Linked DNA regions of Homo sapiens. The protein of the gene in region 4 interacts with the protein of the main gene of each other region in a biochemical or structural test. Each region holds a gene or a part of one and is shown on either strand. Other genes may lie near its edges.

Region 1 (3,500 bases), on a different chromosome or scaffold from region 4:
TGGGCTGAGGCCCCAGCTGAATGGTACATCTTGGAGCAGAAGTCTTACAGGTGGGTATAGGGTATCAGCAACATTCTGGCTCTTAAGTTGGGTACAGGGGTGTTCGGGGTGAATTATAAGTTTCATAATTTACACAGAACTCCATCTTTTGTATGTATCAAAAGTATAAAATGTATAATATAAATATAAATGCAATAAAAATACTTGAAAAAACAAAAATACTTTTAGATTTAGATGAGCTGAAATGTTTTCTAGCTCTAGATGTTGAATCAATAGCTTAGTGGGCACCTCTTGTTCTCAGTGTGTTTGTATTACACTTGACCCAGAAAACACTGCAATACCCATCACTAGCTAGACCCAGCTATCCCCCTGTGGGGTGCATATTCTCAACCCATTTTACAGGTGAGGAAGTTGAGGCTCCTCACCTTTAAAAAAAAAAAAAAAAGCTTAAGAAGCTCACCTGAGTCATATAACCAGCAAGAGATAGGGTTGGGTAGGGCTTCTATAGTGCCCCCAAGGGTACCTAGCAGGACTCTTGTCCCAAGAGGCCAAAATTCCAGCCCAGAAGTGACTTGTGTCCTGCAAGAGTTCCCAATAGAAGTATCTCTAGTGAGTGATCAGGAAGAAAAGCCAAAGGAGGTGGACAAAGCCTCTCAGAAGCCCTCTTCACGCCCTCCACCAAGTTCATGGAGGCCAGAGAAGGGCCAAGGAGGACAGTGCGGGCCAGGCCAGCGTATGGGAACCATAGGCCAAACAGGAAGAGGGACATCCTGAGGCTATTTGGAGCTCAGCTCAGTCAAGGGACCTTAACTAACTTTGACAGACAGACAGGCACATTCCGCCTAACCCTATTACCCTCTTAGGGTTAGCCAGCTGGAAGGATAACTCTCTCCTCCCTATAGAAGCCCTCCCTGCGGCCCTGGATCTATGCTCCCACCTTTCACCTGTGCAGAAGGCCCCTTCCAAACACATTCTGCCTTGTCAGTTCTCGAATCATGTAGCACGCTCTGCCACCACCCTGCGCACCGGTGGCTTCCTCTAGGGTGGGACCCAGCATCTTTAACCCTACATCTTATACAGCGTCCCCCATAGAGCCTTCCCCAGTGAGGCTACTCAGTGAATGCCTATGCCCTAAGTTGCAAATTTCAGGTTTATGTTAGTCCAATCCTATAAACCTCAGCCCAGGGAAGTTGTCCCCTAGAAGACCCTGCCCATTTTCAGCCACCGTGCCAGCCACCCACAGCTCCCTGCTCAAGCCTCCTTGAGGAGTGTCCTTCAGCCTTATTTTGCTTACCTTGCTCCTTCTTTGCAGAAAACCCCTCTGAGAAGGAGTTGTTGGCCATGAGCTGTCTGCTGCCGAGTGCACAGATCCAGAGCTGAGCCTCCGGCCCGCCTGCTGGTCCTGGGGATCTGCTCCTGGAAGAGCGCTGGCCAGGGGTTGAGAAGGGGTGAAGCACTTAGCAATGGCAAGGGCTTCCATGGCATGAAAGACCACCCGCACAGGGGCTCAGTTGGGCAGGGTGCACCCACTGATGCATGTCACCTTCTCCCCCACCTATGGGGGAGTTATATCCATTTTTCAAGTGGGGGAAGCTGAGGCCTGGAGAAGCCAGGCTGCACAGCCACTGGGGTGGGGTGGGGTTGGAGGTACAAGGCACAGTCGACTTCTCCACCCCATGGCTTTACCTCTCTGTTTGTGGTGCCAGGACCCCAGGTCTAGAGCAACCACCCAGCAGGTCATGGGACTGCAGCAGTTCTGGCTTCTTTAGAATTTGATATGTTGTTCAAAATATTTTGACAATAAAATATATTGTTTAAGGAATCAGGGGGTAAAAATTGTTTTCATTGGGAAAATAAAGTTTTAAATGGCAGGAAAAAGTATTGCAAGATAAACTCTACGATATCCAATCAGGGCGTCAGCTGTGGATTTGACATCAACTATGACAAGACACTGTTACAGCCCTCAACAGGTCACCATGTGAATAAATAAATCACCCAAACTTCAAAATAAACACCGTTCCAGGTCCAGGAAGATATGAGCCCATCTAGGTTTTGATCTGATTCAAGCATCCTAAGTTAGACAATTGCAAAAATGTCCACAGTTCTTCTCCCTGATCTGCACCCTTTGCAATCCGACTTTGCAGCCTCCTGCCATCAAGAGATGGAGTCTATTTCTTACTCCTTGAAATGGGGCTGGCCTTTAGGCCTGATATGGCCAACAGAATGAAGTGGAAATGATGGAAGACCAGTTCTGAAGGCTTTATGCACCTTGCCGTCCTCTCTCCTCTCTCTCCTCTTTCTCTCTGTCTCTCTGTCTCTCTCTCTCTCTCTCAGTTCCTCTCTGTCAGTTCTGCCATTGTCACGAGAACAATCCTAGGCTGACCTGCTGGTGGAGGAGAGCCAGAGCTTCCCAGACAATGGCCATTCACCCCGCAGGAGAAGCTGGATAGCCGAGCCGAAGACAGTCAAAAAGGCAGGAAGGCTTTCAGCAGAGTCTAGAAGACCTCCCAGCTGAGCACAGCCTAAATGACCAACTCACAGAATCATGAGCTAAATTCATAATTGTTGCTTTTAGCCACTGTGTTTTGTGGTTGCTTGTTATGCAGCATGGTATGGCAATGGATAATGGCAACAATATTGAGGCATGTTGTTGCTCCGCCACTCGGCCTGAGTATGGTTCCCAGAGGAAACAGGATGCCCTGACAGCACAGCTGCCACCAGGCCCCTCATTATCTTGGCTTCGGATCTGCTTAAATGTGGCTTCTTCATCTGTTAATGGAATAGCATTGGCATTTTCTGGAGGAGCAAGAGGCTTCTTACTAATAATCAGTAAAGAAATAAGGTACCATAGCCCCCACACCTATGTCTCACATCAAGTTCACAGCACCCTTTAGGCCTTGCTGCTTACCGGTTAACAAGGAGGCTGCAGTGACTGTGTGTCAAGGTGCTCCAATGGGGCTCTGGTGAGCTCTGGGTCTCCGTGCTTCTTTCTGAAACTAATCAAGCAGCATGGTAGAGGGTATGGGCAGAAGCCAAGATCACGGCTTTCTTAAATCAGGCATCTCAGAGCATGAATGGCATCATGACTTACTAGCTGTGTGACCTTGGTGAAATTCCTTAGCCTCTCTGAATCTGTTTCCTCATGTAGAAAACAGAAATGACAGTTACAGAGGGTTGGAGGGAGGGTTACAAGGGAAGATAAAGCCTAATGGCAAAGTGCACTTTGTTTTAGAGACAACAAACAATAACATTAATTTTTTTAAAAAAAGCTCAGATTTAGTTGAAAAGTAGAGAACAGTAGATTTGAAGATTATTCCAAAAACCACTCTTTTAACACACCCAGAACAATAACTGAAAAAAAAATCAAGTTTTTCTTTTCTTGTTGTTTGTTTCAATTTGGATTTTCTCAACTTGGACAGTTAGAACTCATTTTTAAAGTTTTCATTTGATATAAATAACTGTGTTGTGTCCCCAAATAAGACTTTCCTGGGAACACAGGT
Region 2 (3,500 bases), on a different chromosome or scaffold from region 4:
CCCTCAGGGTGGGGGCTGGGGGTGCTGATATCCTCCTCTAGGGAGGTGCTTCAGGCAGGATGGAGGCAGGGACCCTATGGATGATCAGGAGCCATCGGATGCCTTCACCCCACCTCAGGAGCAGCCTGCCTGGGTGGGTTGGAGGGGGGCACCCTCAGACCCTTGCCCAGAGTCCAGGGCTCATGGAGAGTGCAGTCCAGGCACGATGCTTCCACGTCTGTCTTGTCTGACTCCATCCTCCTCTTTCCTTTCTGTGTTTCAGAAAGGGCCCAAAGCACCCAACTCCTTGGAGCTGTGGTTTTTTCTTTTTAATCTTTCTAGCCGCCTTTGAGCATTTAAATGCCTCCCTTGAATGAGTGTTTCATTCCCACTTCACATTTCAGTCTTCTCCCGCCAATGGGCCCCTCTAAACCCTGGAAACCCAACCCTGGGTGCAGCCTAGAATGGCCTCAGGGTGGGGCACCGAGCTCCTGTCTCCAAAGCCCCCAAGAAAGGCTGCAGGTGTTTGGAGGCCAAGATCAGCTCCCTGCCCCCAGGAGCCCTTCCGCCTTGCTGGGCCAAGGTCTTAGGGCACTTCCAAGGGCAGCCCAGGGAGAGCTGGTGCCAGAGCCACTTGTGAGTGCTGGGGGCTGGGGGCGGGGAGGCAGCAAAGGAGGAGCACAGGTGCCAGTATGGGCCGGGCCCCTGACTTCGGTGCCAGCCTCCAAGCCCTCCAGTGTCAAGAGAATGACAATGCCTTTCTCGGGATTGTTGTGAGGATTATGTCGTTAAACAGGGGATTATGTAAGGAGGGTGCAGAGCTGAGAGAGTTTCAGGAAAACTCCAAATCCAGGAGGCACAGTGCTGACCCCATCTGCTACCCCCAGAAGGTGTGAGGCTGGCTGGCTACATCCCCGGGCTCCACAGGAAACAAGATCCACAGCTGGCAGAGGGTGGAGCTTGAGGAGCCAGCCCTGACTGACCAGTTCTGAGCCAGCCTGCTGTCCCTAGAGGGGCCTGGGTGTTGGGGGGAGGGGAGGAAACTTCTGTCCAAGGCCCAGGGGAAAGAAGGCACCAGTGAGGCTTCAGACGCACCCATGCCATTGGCTCCTATTTTCCCAGTTCCCTGGCAGCAGAGAGAGCAGCTGGGCTCTGCAGACGTTTCTGGCCATCATTCACTCCCGGTGTTCAAACCAGGCAGGCCCCTGCCTTCCTCCTCTTCTAGATGTGCCAGTGTAGATGTGGTGGGTGGAGGCTGGGGCAGGTGGCAGATAAGTAGGAAGGGTACAAGTTTCAGCAGCTCCCCCTCCCCACACTCCCAGGCTGCCTGCCTGGGTTGGGGCAGGTGGGACAAAGTGCATTTTCATTGTATGATTAAATTACTGTCTTGTCCTGCTCTGCTGCCTTCCCATCTGGCCTCCCCTGGGGCTTTGCTCATGCTCACCCTCTCACTGGAACCTTCTGTCTCCCCATGGTCCCACTCCCCAACTCCACCCTGGCCGATAAATAAGCCGGAGTCCCCTCAATGCTCAAAAAGCCTCTCCCTGCCTGCCTGGGTGGCTCCAACTGGCTCCTGTCATGTCTCCTTTCTGCACCTCCAGACTCCTCCAAGAAGTGACCCACACATCCTGCCCCCACTGCCGCTGCCTCCCACCTGCTCACACACAGCCGTCTGCCTTTGGCCCCATTATTCCACGCATATCAATGACCTTCTGTGTCCAAAGCCACGGGTCACTGCCCCCTCTGTAGCTGACCACACCTCCCCTGGCTTTCCTCAAGTGTCTCTTGAGTCTCTCCTGCCTCTCTTCCTCCTGTCCAGGTCCACAGTTCCATTTGGGTCTTGGGTGTGGCCAATAAAATGCCCTCATGGGCACTGGCTCTCAAGGGCCCCCAGCAAGGCCCATTCTTGTGTCCAAGGATGGTTCCTGGGCAGAGGTGGAGCCTGGTCCCAAAGGGGTGCCAAAGCTGTGTTTGGGGGTGGGAGGGCTCAGTGTAGAGGAGGGTCTTTGCAGTCAGGGGCAGCCTCTGGATGAGAGGGGACCATGCAGAAAGGGAAGGAGACTCAGGGAATTGGGGAGCTAGCCCCCAGCAGAGCCTGGCCCAGCCTTTCTCAAACAGCCCTGCAGTCCTGACACTGGCTACCCCACAATATCTGTAGGCCCGGAGCCCTGGGGCTGCTTATGCAGCTGCCCTTGCACGGTGTCCTGGCCCAGGGGCCTCCAAGGGTCCAATTCATTCCCCAGGACCCAGCCAGCCTCATGTCCTCTCCTTTTGGATCCCTCACAGAGTTAGATGCAGTTCTGAGCAGCCCGGAGGACCTGGCCTGGGGGACCTCTAAGAATGCATTCCCCAGCTGTGAGCCTCTGAGCCTCTGGCCGTTTATCTTCCCCTGTTGATAGATGTTGCAGGGAGGCCCCTGCCAGCCCCACTGAAGCCCTCGGAGGCTTGCCTGACCTTCAGTGCGGCTATAAACAGCACGGCCTGTCAGCACTGCTAAGAGCTGCCCAAGAAACAGCACTGCGTGCTCCAGCGGCCCCGAAATTCCAGGAATTGCCGGCACAGCTACCCCAGAATAGTCTCAGCCTGTCCCCCTTCCTCTCCCCAGAGACCCTCTGTCCTCAGCATGTTCCCACCACAGCTGGGAGAGTCTGATAAATACTGGAACCGAAACCCACAGAGAAGAGGCCTCTGAGCTGGTGCTCCAGGTGAGCCTGCAGGCGGGGTGGCTGAGACCCTAGGAAGAGAGGGTTTCCAGTAGACAGGCAGGCCCCTCCTGGGCCCAGGCTCAGCCCCCGACTCCACCAGTCTCACAACCAGTCCCAGTAGACAACAGGTGGAAAGTTTTCACAAGTGCCTGTTAGAAAGAGCTCTCACAGGTGTGGAAGGCATCATTTTATTTGTTTATTTATTTATTTATTTTTAAGATGGAGTCTCACTCTGCCCCCAGAATGGAGTGCAGTGGTGCGATCTCAGCTCACTGCAACCTCTGCCTCCTGGGTTCAAGCTGTTCTCCTGCCTCAGCCTCTTGAGTAGCTGGGATCACAAGCATGTACCACCACACCTGGCTAATTTTTGTATTTTTAGTGGAGACAGGGTTTCACCATGTTGGCCAGGCTGGTCTCAAACTCCTGACCTCAAGTGGTCTGCCCCCTCGGCCTCCCAAAGTGCTGGGATTACAGGCATGAGGCACCGCGCCCAGCCTGCTATCCCCATTTTAAGGGTGAGAAAAACTGAGGCCGAGCAGGTAAACAGACTTCTGAGGTGACACAGCTGAGAGCAGCAGAGCCTAACAAAGCATACTCCTCTTCCCCAAGGCGGAGGCATGAGAGGCATGAAGAGGTGAGACCCCAGACCACAGCCCCAGCCTCTGGCCAGCTGCCAGGGCAGAGGCCTTTGGAGCTGCTCCCTCTCTGGGCTGCTCCCCCTTCTCCACTTCCTGGAGAACTGGCTGGGGTGGGGTGAAAGGGCAGCTCATGTTGCAGGCCCAGCCACACCTGTCCAGGATAAATAAAGGCATTTCC
Region 3 (3,500 bases), on a different chromosome or scaffold from region 4:
AGTGCATTTGAGGCTGTGTACGTGGGGAAGGGGCTGTATTTGCATGTGAGAGAGGAGGGAGGGGAGCTGGTGCAGTGCTGGTTTGGAAGGGTAGCTGGGGGGCTGTTTTCAGGGTGTGTGTGGAGGGGCTCTATCTGGGGGCATAGCAGGGAGCTCACTTCGTATTTTAAGGAATGAGAAGGGTTTACACCTTGGGGAGACAGAGGCAGATTTGGTATTAAGCTGGGCCACAGGGGATGGAGACGTTCTGGGTGTTTAGGGGAGGAGGCCGTGCCCGGGTCTGTGTGATGTCAGCTATAGCCCAGGTGGGTGCATCTGGGGGGCCTGACAAGGGTGACAATAGGGGCTGTGTCTCAGTCTATGGAAAGGGGCTTTGAACTGGGGACATGAGAGGGCCTATTTTTAACTGAAACCAAAGAACTGAGGTTTGAGAAAGAACAAAGGGAAAAGGAGAGAGGGCCCCATGGCGGGGATGGGGGGTCCCCGAAGCCTCACCGTGAGTGCCAGGCAGTGTCGGGCGCATGCGGCCTTATGCAGTGCGGTCATGCCATCCCGGGCCCGGAAGTCAATGTGGGCCCCGCCCAGGCACAGGGTTCGAATCACCTCTACAGAGCCTTCGGTCTGGGCCGCCAGTGTCAAGGGGGTCTCTGAAGGGCGGGAAAAGCTGGTCACATGAAGCCCCTTCTCCTCCCCTCCATCCCTTCCCATTTTCCAGGCTCTGCAGCTCTCCACCCCACAGCCTCTGGCCCCGTGGCCTCCCCCTTGGACAGCAATGTGTTTGGGAGACACCAGTCAGGAATGGATGTGAATGCAGATGGCACCCCTGCTCCCCAGCTCTGTCCTGGCCCTGAGGTCCTCCTGATGCGCACCCCTCCCTACCTCCCGAATCCGAGTCATGGTAATTGGGGTCCAGCCCCTTGTCCAGCAGCCGCGCCACCTTGTCAGATGTCCCGAGCTGCACATACTCCAGGAACTTCTTCAACCCCGTCTGAGCCATGGGCAAAGAGAGAGAAGACAGGACAGTCAGGAGCAAGGCAGAGAAGCAGGGTCCTCAAGCAGCGACGTCCAGTGAAAATATACGTGGAGTCACATACGCCATTGAAAAGCTTCTAGCAGCCTCCTTTACAGAGAAAATACCCAGCCCTTTGGGAGGCCGAGGCGGGAGGATCACTTGGGCCCAGGGGTTCGAGACCAGCCTGAGCAACAAAGTGAGACCCTTATCTCTACAAAAAATGCAAAAAACTAGCCAGGTTGTGGTGGCACACGCCTGTAGTCCCAGCTACTCGGGAGGCTGAGCTGGAAGGATCCTTTGAACCCTGAAAGGTTGAGGCTGCAGTGAGCCATGATTGCACCACTGCAGCCCGGGTGACAGAGCAAGACCCCGTCTCAAAAAAAAAAAAAAAAAAAATCAGGGTGGTTGGGGGTGAAGTGTTAGTTGTGTTGAAATTCGTGTTAATGATATATGTTATTTAACTGATATAGCTACAATGTTACTGTTTCAACAGGTAATTGAGATGAAAATTATTAATGAGGTTATTTAACTTTTTTTTGGTACTAAGTCTTTGAAACCCAGTGTGTATTTCACACTCACAGCGAGTCTTAGTTGGGACCAAACACACTGCAAGCACTCAGGAGCCACACTTGGCCAGTGGTTCCCAAAGTGGACCGTGAAAGTCTGGAGGGATGGAACATTTAGGGGAGGAAAGAGTTCAATGCATGCTGTGGTGGGGAGAGGGTAGACAAGGAGGGACTGGGAGTTTTTCCTTCTCAAGGATCAAGAGTTCTTCATTTCTGACCAAAGCAGTTCCCGATTTCCTCCCAGCTCTCACCATCGAGACACAGGACAGACAGGGGCTGAGGACTGGCGGGCAAGGTACCAGGAGGACAGATATGGCTGGAAAGGGGGGTGTAATGGTTGGATTTTGCAGAGATTCAGGCTATGAGGTTGGGAGAAATGTAGCCTGTCTTTGAAATAGACTCTAGGCAGAAGGACCTTCAGTGTCAGGGTCCTAGGCCAAGGTGGGGAAGTAAAGAGGCCTTGGATGGATATGGGGGGAGGCAGGGGAAGAGAAGGGAGACTCAAAGGAGGCCAGGTGGGAATGATGTGGGCCCAGGCAGAGGGATGAAGGGCAAAAGAGGAAAGTAAGAAGGGGTTGTGATGGGGATAATGGGGGGTATTTGTGGTTGTCTCAAATGTGGTACAGCATCCCAAGTTAAGCGGGGGCAGTGGCCAGAGGGATCGCTGGCTTGGGGAATGTGGAGGTCTATTGGGAAGAGGTGGGGAGAGAAAGTGGTTGGGTAGGGGGCTCCAGTGGTAGGGGGCTATAGGGGATAGATGCCAGCAGGGTTTTCTCACCTTCGTGTGCAACTTGGCCAGCTGCTTCTCATCCAGGTTGGTCTGTTTGTAAACTCGGGTCTTGTATCGGAACTGAGGTCAAGGGTAGGGTAGTGAGAGAGACACAGAGACTTGGAATCAGGGGCCTGGGGAGAAGGCTTGGGGTAGGGGAAGGTCTGATCCCCTTCTAATTCCCCGGGGTAGCTCAGGGTGGGAGTGAAAACAGCCCTGGAACCTTGGTCTAGGCGGTAGATGGGTGGCAGTGGCTTTTCCGACAGTGCTGGGTATTATGGTATATGTGCACTGCAACCCCTGCCTTGAAGGAGGAGGAGTCTGGACCCCACAGGGAATGTTCTAGAGTGCCTACTGTAATTGGGAATCCTCCCCCAATTTGATGGGTGAGGAGAAGCTTGGGGCAGGAAAGTGACTTGGCCAAGGCCACTTAGCTGGTCAGAAGCAGAACAGATGGTAATTTGAACTCAGGACTCTCTGACTTCCCTGTGATGCTTAGAAGGTCTGGACTCGCACACTGGGTGCCCCCTCGTTAAGGTTTCGAGTGTGTTAAAAAGTGGGTGGGGGGCAGATGTGTTTTAGGGCATGCCTTCTCTTATCAGTGAAGGAGTTGGGGAAGCTTCACCTCCAGGTAGGGGACCCCCTTCTCAAAGGACTGGGGGTACTCCCGCAGCAGCCTCTCCTCCTCCAGGAAGTTGGCATCGCGGCCGGAGGTGGCCGGTTGGAACAGGCCATAGTTGAGCACATCCTGCAGGCTCTCGCTCAGGGCACAGAGCACCTGCTGCTTGGCCGTCCAGATGGTGGCATCGGGGTTGAAGCGAAGGCATTTCTGGTTGGGGAAGAGATAGGGGCTAGGGTGGGCCAGGGGCCAGAGGAGAGCCTGAGGTGGGTTGGGAAGTGAGCCAGGAGCTGAGTGTGGGGGTGATTCCTGGGAGGATACCCAGCACCAGTGGACTCCCCATGTCGGTTGGGGCACTGTCCCTCTCCTGCCGCTGGCCAGTGGGCAGGTACTCACTGTCTGGTGCAGGTCCGGGATGCCAATCCTGAAGACCATCATGCTGAAGTGGGCGTCGTCTGGGACGGACATTGAGCGGCCCTGGAGGCCTCTAACAGAGGCCAGGCTACCAGGTGCCCCACTGCCCTGGCCCCGGGT
Region 4 (3,500 bases):
CCACTGCAAGCTGGTGTAAATAGCATTTTTCTTTCATTTTAGTGAGCAACAACCCTGTAAACAAGTAGGGCTTAATTTATTATATATTTAGCTCCTTGTTTCAGGATTAATTCCTCAATTAAGGATAATGCAACAGGCTTTTGTGTTACATTCACTACTGTTTTTTTGTCTTAGCAGGAAGCTGAATGCTTTTAAGTGAAAAAAATTAATGCATTATTAAATTGCAGGAAAAAAATCAAGCAGGTTGCAAATGAGACTGATAGGGCATTCTCAGAGGTCAGAATACCCAGAAATCACATTTGCTACAGATTTCTCAATTGGATTTCCTGTGATTTGGTGAATACTCTAAAGAGGCATAATGCCTTGTTTGTAGGAAAGATGTCTTGAAGATAATTAGTCATTTTTTAAGATGAGTATTGTGATAGGGAGGGAAGAAAGTGTTTGGAGTGTGACGAATCATCATAGGGAGAAAGCAAAAGAAGGTGAATGACAGAGTGAAAATGGGCAAGGGGATTTGGATGTGAACGTGGGGAACTGCTCATATTTTAAGAGTAGGTATTCACTCCCCTCCAACAATTCCTTTGGGTACACCTCCGTATTACTGAACCAGATCCTCATCTGCTGGACAGGGCACAGAACCTTGGGAAGGTGGTTTTTGTTGTTGTTGTTTAGTTTTATTTTATTCTTAGCTCTGCTAGAACTTTGCTGCAAATTGCTTTCTTTATCTGATCTCTGCATTGAGAAAACTGGAGAATATTTTCTTGCTTTATGGAAAAAAATGTAATATTCTTAAACGTTTCTTTCATTTCCTCTTGATTTTTAGTCATTTAATACAAAAACATTTTCTCAGAAGGCTCTGTTGACAGTTTCTCTTCCATTGTCTTGAAATGTTTGTTTGAATATTTAACAGAGGCACAAAATTCAAAAATCAAAAAGTTCGAAGTTAAGTCTTCTTTTACTGTCTCCCAGTCATGCAGTATGCACTCCATAATAGCAATTACTGTTACTAATTTCTCTTGTAATGCTTCCTGCATACATACATGCACATATACATATTGTCTCCCCCTGCTCCTCACAGTTAGTTCCATTGTCTTTTAAGGAAGACTTAAAATAATTTGAGGATTTGGATTCTCATTCTAGATCATCTTAGATCAGTTAGTTACCCCTTTTCCTTAAGAAATACATAATGCCTCTGTTTTATTTTTCTTAGTAAAATTTATATTCTAATTTCTTGGCTTATTTAATGTGCAAGTTAGTTTGGGCTGAAGCAGCCTTTCCTACTAACCTACATTGCTTTTAGGGTTTTCCTTATAGAATTACCTGTTAAAAATAAAAGTGCAGGGGGAGACATAACCTTGAGAACTATTGGTTCATTGCTGTCTATGAGTGAATTCTAAATCGCCTGCTTGACCACATCAGTCAACAAATATTTAGCGAGTAGCAACTATGGGATATATAAAAGATAGACCTTATGTTCTAGGAGCTTATTTATTTTGTGAAATAAGTCATAAACACAAAATGTTAAATAAGAAAAGATTTTCATAATGGTTGATGATTAAAAAGTTGGAAAGGATTTATTGCTAAATAAATGGTATAGTTAATAAATTGATTTTTTAGGAAAGAGAGAGCATTTCAAGTTGGTATGATTAGAGACAGGTTGATGGAAGAAGCATGATTTGAGCTGGGCTTTACAGAATGGTTGGGTAGAACAGTGTGAGCCAAAGTGAGAAGGCAAGAATGTACAAAGTGTTTTGGGGGAGCAGTGAGAATCTCCTTGTGGCAGATAAGCCTGCAAAGATAGGATAGAGTTAGCCAAATATTAAGGACTTTTTGAAGTTTCATTCATAACATGGAGAATGTAGAATTTAGAGAGTATAGAATGACAGATGATCAAAGCTATACTGTAGTGTTTTAGGAATATTGGGCAGCAGTGTCTAATTGGATGGAATAGAGCAAGGAATGGACATCCACTTAGTTGGCTCTTTGATTTGTCCCAGCTGTGTAGTGATGAAGGGTTGGAGTAGTGTAGTGGTTATAAGGATGGGAAGGAAGGAAAGTAAATATAACTTTGTATATGTGTGTTACATGAATGTGTGTGTTTAACGTTTTTCTAATGTTAGAAATAGTTTATAGGAAGACTCAGTAGAACTCAGTGAATGACTTTACATGGGAGAAAAGGGAGAGGGAATAAAGATTATTTTACTGTTTTAAAGATTAGAGATAGAGAGTCTCCTATTTTGAAAATCTGGGGAAGTATGTTCTGTAATCCATGGTAGTCTGGTCCATAGCATTTTGGTTAACAAGCTGTCTTTATTTCTAATTTTCTAATTGTTTCTCTGCAGAGGGTTTTCTTGAGCTTTTAATGTTATTTCTTGTAGGAAAACTTGAATCTTCTGAACTTTATTATCTAAGCTCTCACTGATAAAGATTATTTAATCTTCGTTTGTGGGTCTCTACCCTTGTTTTGGAGTTTTACATTCTGTCCATTCATAGACACTTAACTTGTCATTTTCGTTGGCATTCTCAACTCACCTTCAGTTTGGAGGATAAAGGAACAAGAATTCTATACCTTTTTATAGACTTGGTAAATGACTCTTTTGTCCTTACCGAAACTCAGTATATTTGATTTTTTGATTGTTTGTTTATATCCCATGTGCTTCATGACAGCCATACTATTTGAAATTGCAGGCTGAGTTAAAGGTAGTAACTGAAAGGATTTTAGTAGGTGAAAGCAGAGGGAAAGAAAAGGCCTTATCAGCCAGTGATGTTGCTTTCTGTTTCAGGTACTGAATCTTAGGCCGTGTATGAAAAATGTCAGACTTGACTTGCATGATCTTCTTGGTATAGCTGGGGTACAAGACGGTGGCCAGAGGGCCCTAACGTACAACTTGAGTATACAGTGGTAACTTAGAGCAAAGGCAGAACTCAGGGAGCTTGGGTTCTGCTACTGCCCTTTCTCGTCAGAAATGATCATTGAATGAGAAAAAATAAAGGGTTACTAGATTATCAGAACATGGACATCAAAATAATAGAATACACCAAGAGAAAAAAAATTAGAAATTTAATGCAATTTTTAAATCTCATTTAATTTGTTAAAATTATATTTCTTCTCACCACGAAAGTTACTGAGTTCTTGCAAATTCCATTACATTTACCACAGTTTGCACTCAGACATTTGGCAGAAGTCCCCATGGTTTGCTGTGGAACCAGTAGAGCAGGCACAGTTCATGTACAAGATGTTAATAAATTTAGCACTCTATTTAGGGTATTACCCAAATTACCCTTACAGTAATTCTATTAGGAGATTCTCTGTGCAATCCCATTATAAGTGCATACCTTTCTCCTAGTTTGAATGCTCAAAGTAACAGTAATTAAGAACTGTTATACAATAGTCTCTTGGAAAGGCATTCTTAAGGTAGCCTGGGATGAGGAAAGTCCATAAACACCACTTAACTGAATGATGGCAATCTGTTTTATTCATCTGGATGTTCTCATGCAAG

What was found. Proteins that work in one complex are often made in the same cells at the same time.
Region 1: the proteins of SCN8A (region 4) and FRMPD2 interact in a test that uses a peptide from one of them, tested with the Homo sapiens proteins (one large-scale study listed by IntAct).
Region 2: the proteins of SCN8A (region 4) and LDB3 interact in a test that uses a peptide from one of them, tested with the Homo sapiens proteins (one large-scale study listed by IntAct).
Region 3: the proteins of SCN8A (region 4) and SHANK1 interact in a test that uses a peptide from one of them, tested with the Homo sapiens proteins (one large-scale study listed by IntAct).

Annotation. Positions count from the first base shown.
Region 1 is NC_000010.11:48,236,697-48,240,196, forward strand, and holds part of FRMPD2 (FERM and PDZ domain-containing protein 2), read right to left. Parts: intron 2,997-3,500; coding exon 2,909-2,996; intron 1,428-2,908; coding exon 1,295-1,427; intron 1-1,294.
Region 2 is NC_000010.11:86,671,511-86,675,010, reverse strand, and holds part of LDB3 (LIM domain-binding protein 3), read right to left. Parts: intron 1-3,500. UniProt on the Homo sapiens protein: May function as an adapter in striated muscle to couple protein kinase C-mediated signaling via its LIM domains to the cytoskeleton.
Region 3 is NC_000019.10:50,713,303-50,716,802, forward strand, and holds part of SHANK1 (SH3 and multiple ankyrin repeat domains protein 1), read right to left. Parts: coding exon 3,363-3,500; intron 3,177-3,362; coding exon 2,973-3,176; intron 2,429-2,972; coding exon 2,357-2,428; intron 989-2,356; coding exon 880-988; intron 648-879; coding exon 496-647; intron 1-495. UniProt on the Homo sapiens protein: Seems to be an adapter protein in the postsynaptic density (PSD) of excitatory synapses that interconnects receptors of the postsynaptic membrane including NMDA-type and metabotropic glutamate receptors via complexes with GKAP/PSD-95 and Homer, respectively, and the actin-based cytoskeleton.
Region 4 is NC_000012.12:51,597,733-51,601,232, forward strand, and holds part of SCN8A (sodium channel protein type 8 subunit alpha), read left to right. Parts: intron 1-3,500. UniProt on the Homo sapiens protein: Pore-forming subunit of a voltage-gated sodium channel complex assuming opened or closed conformations in response to the voltage difference across membranes and through which sodium ions selectively pass along their electrochemical gradient.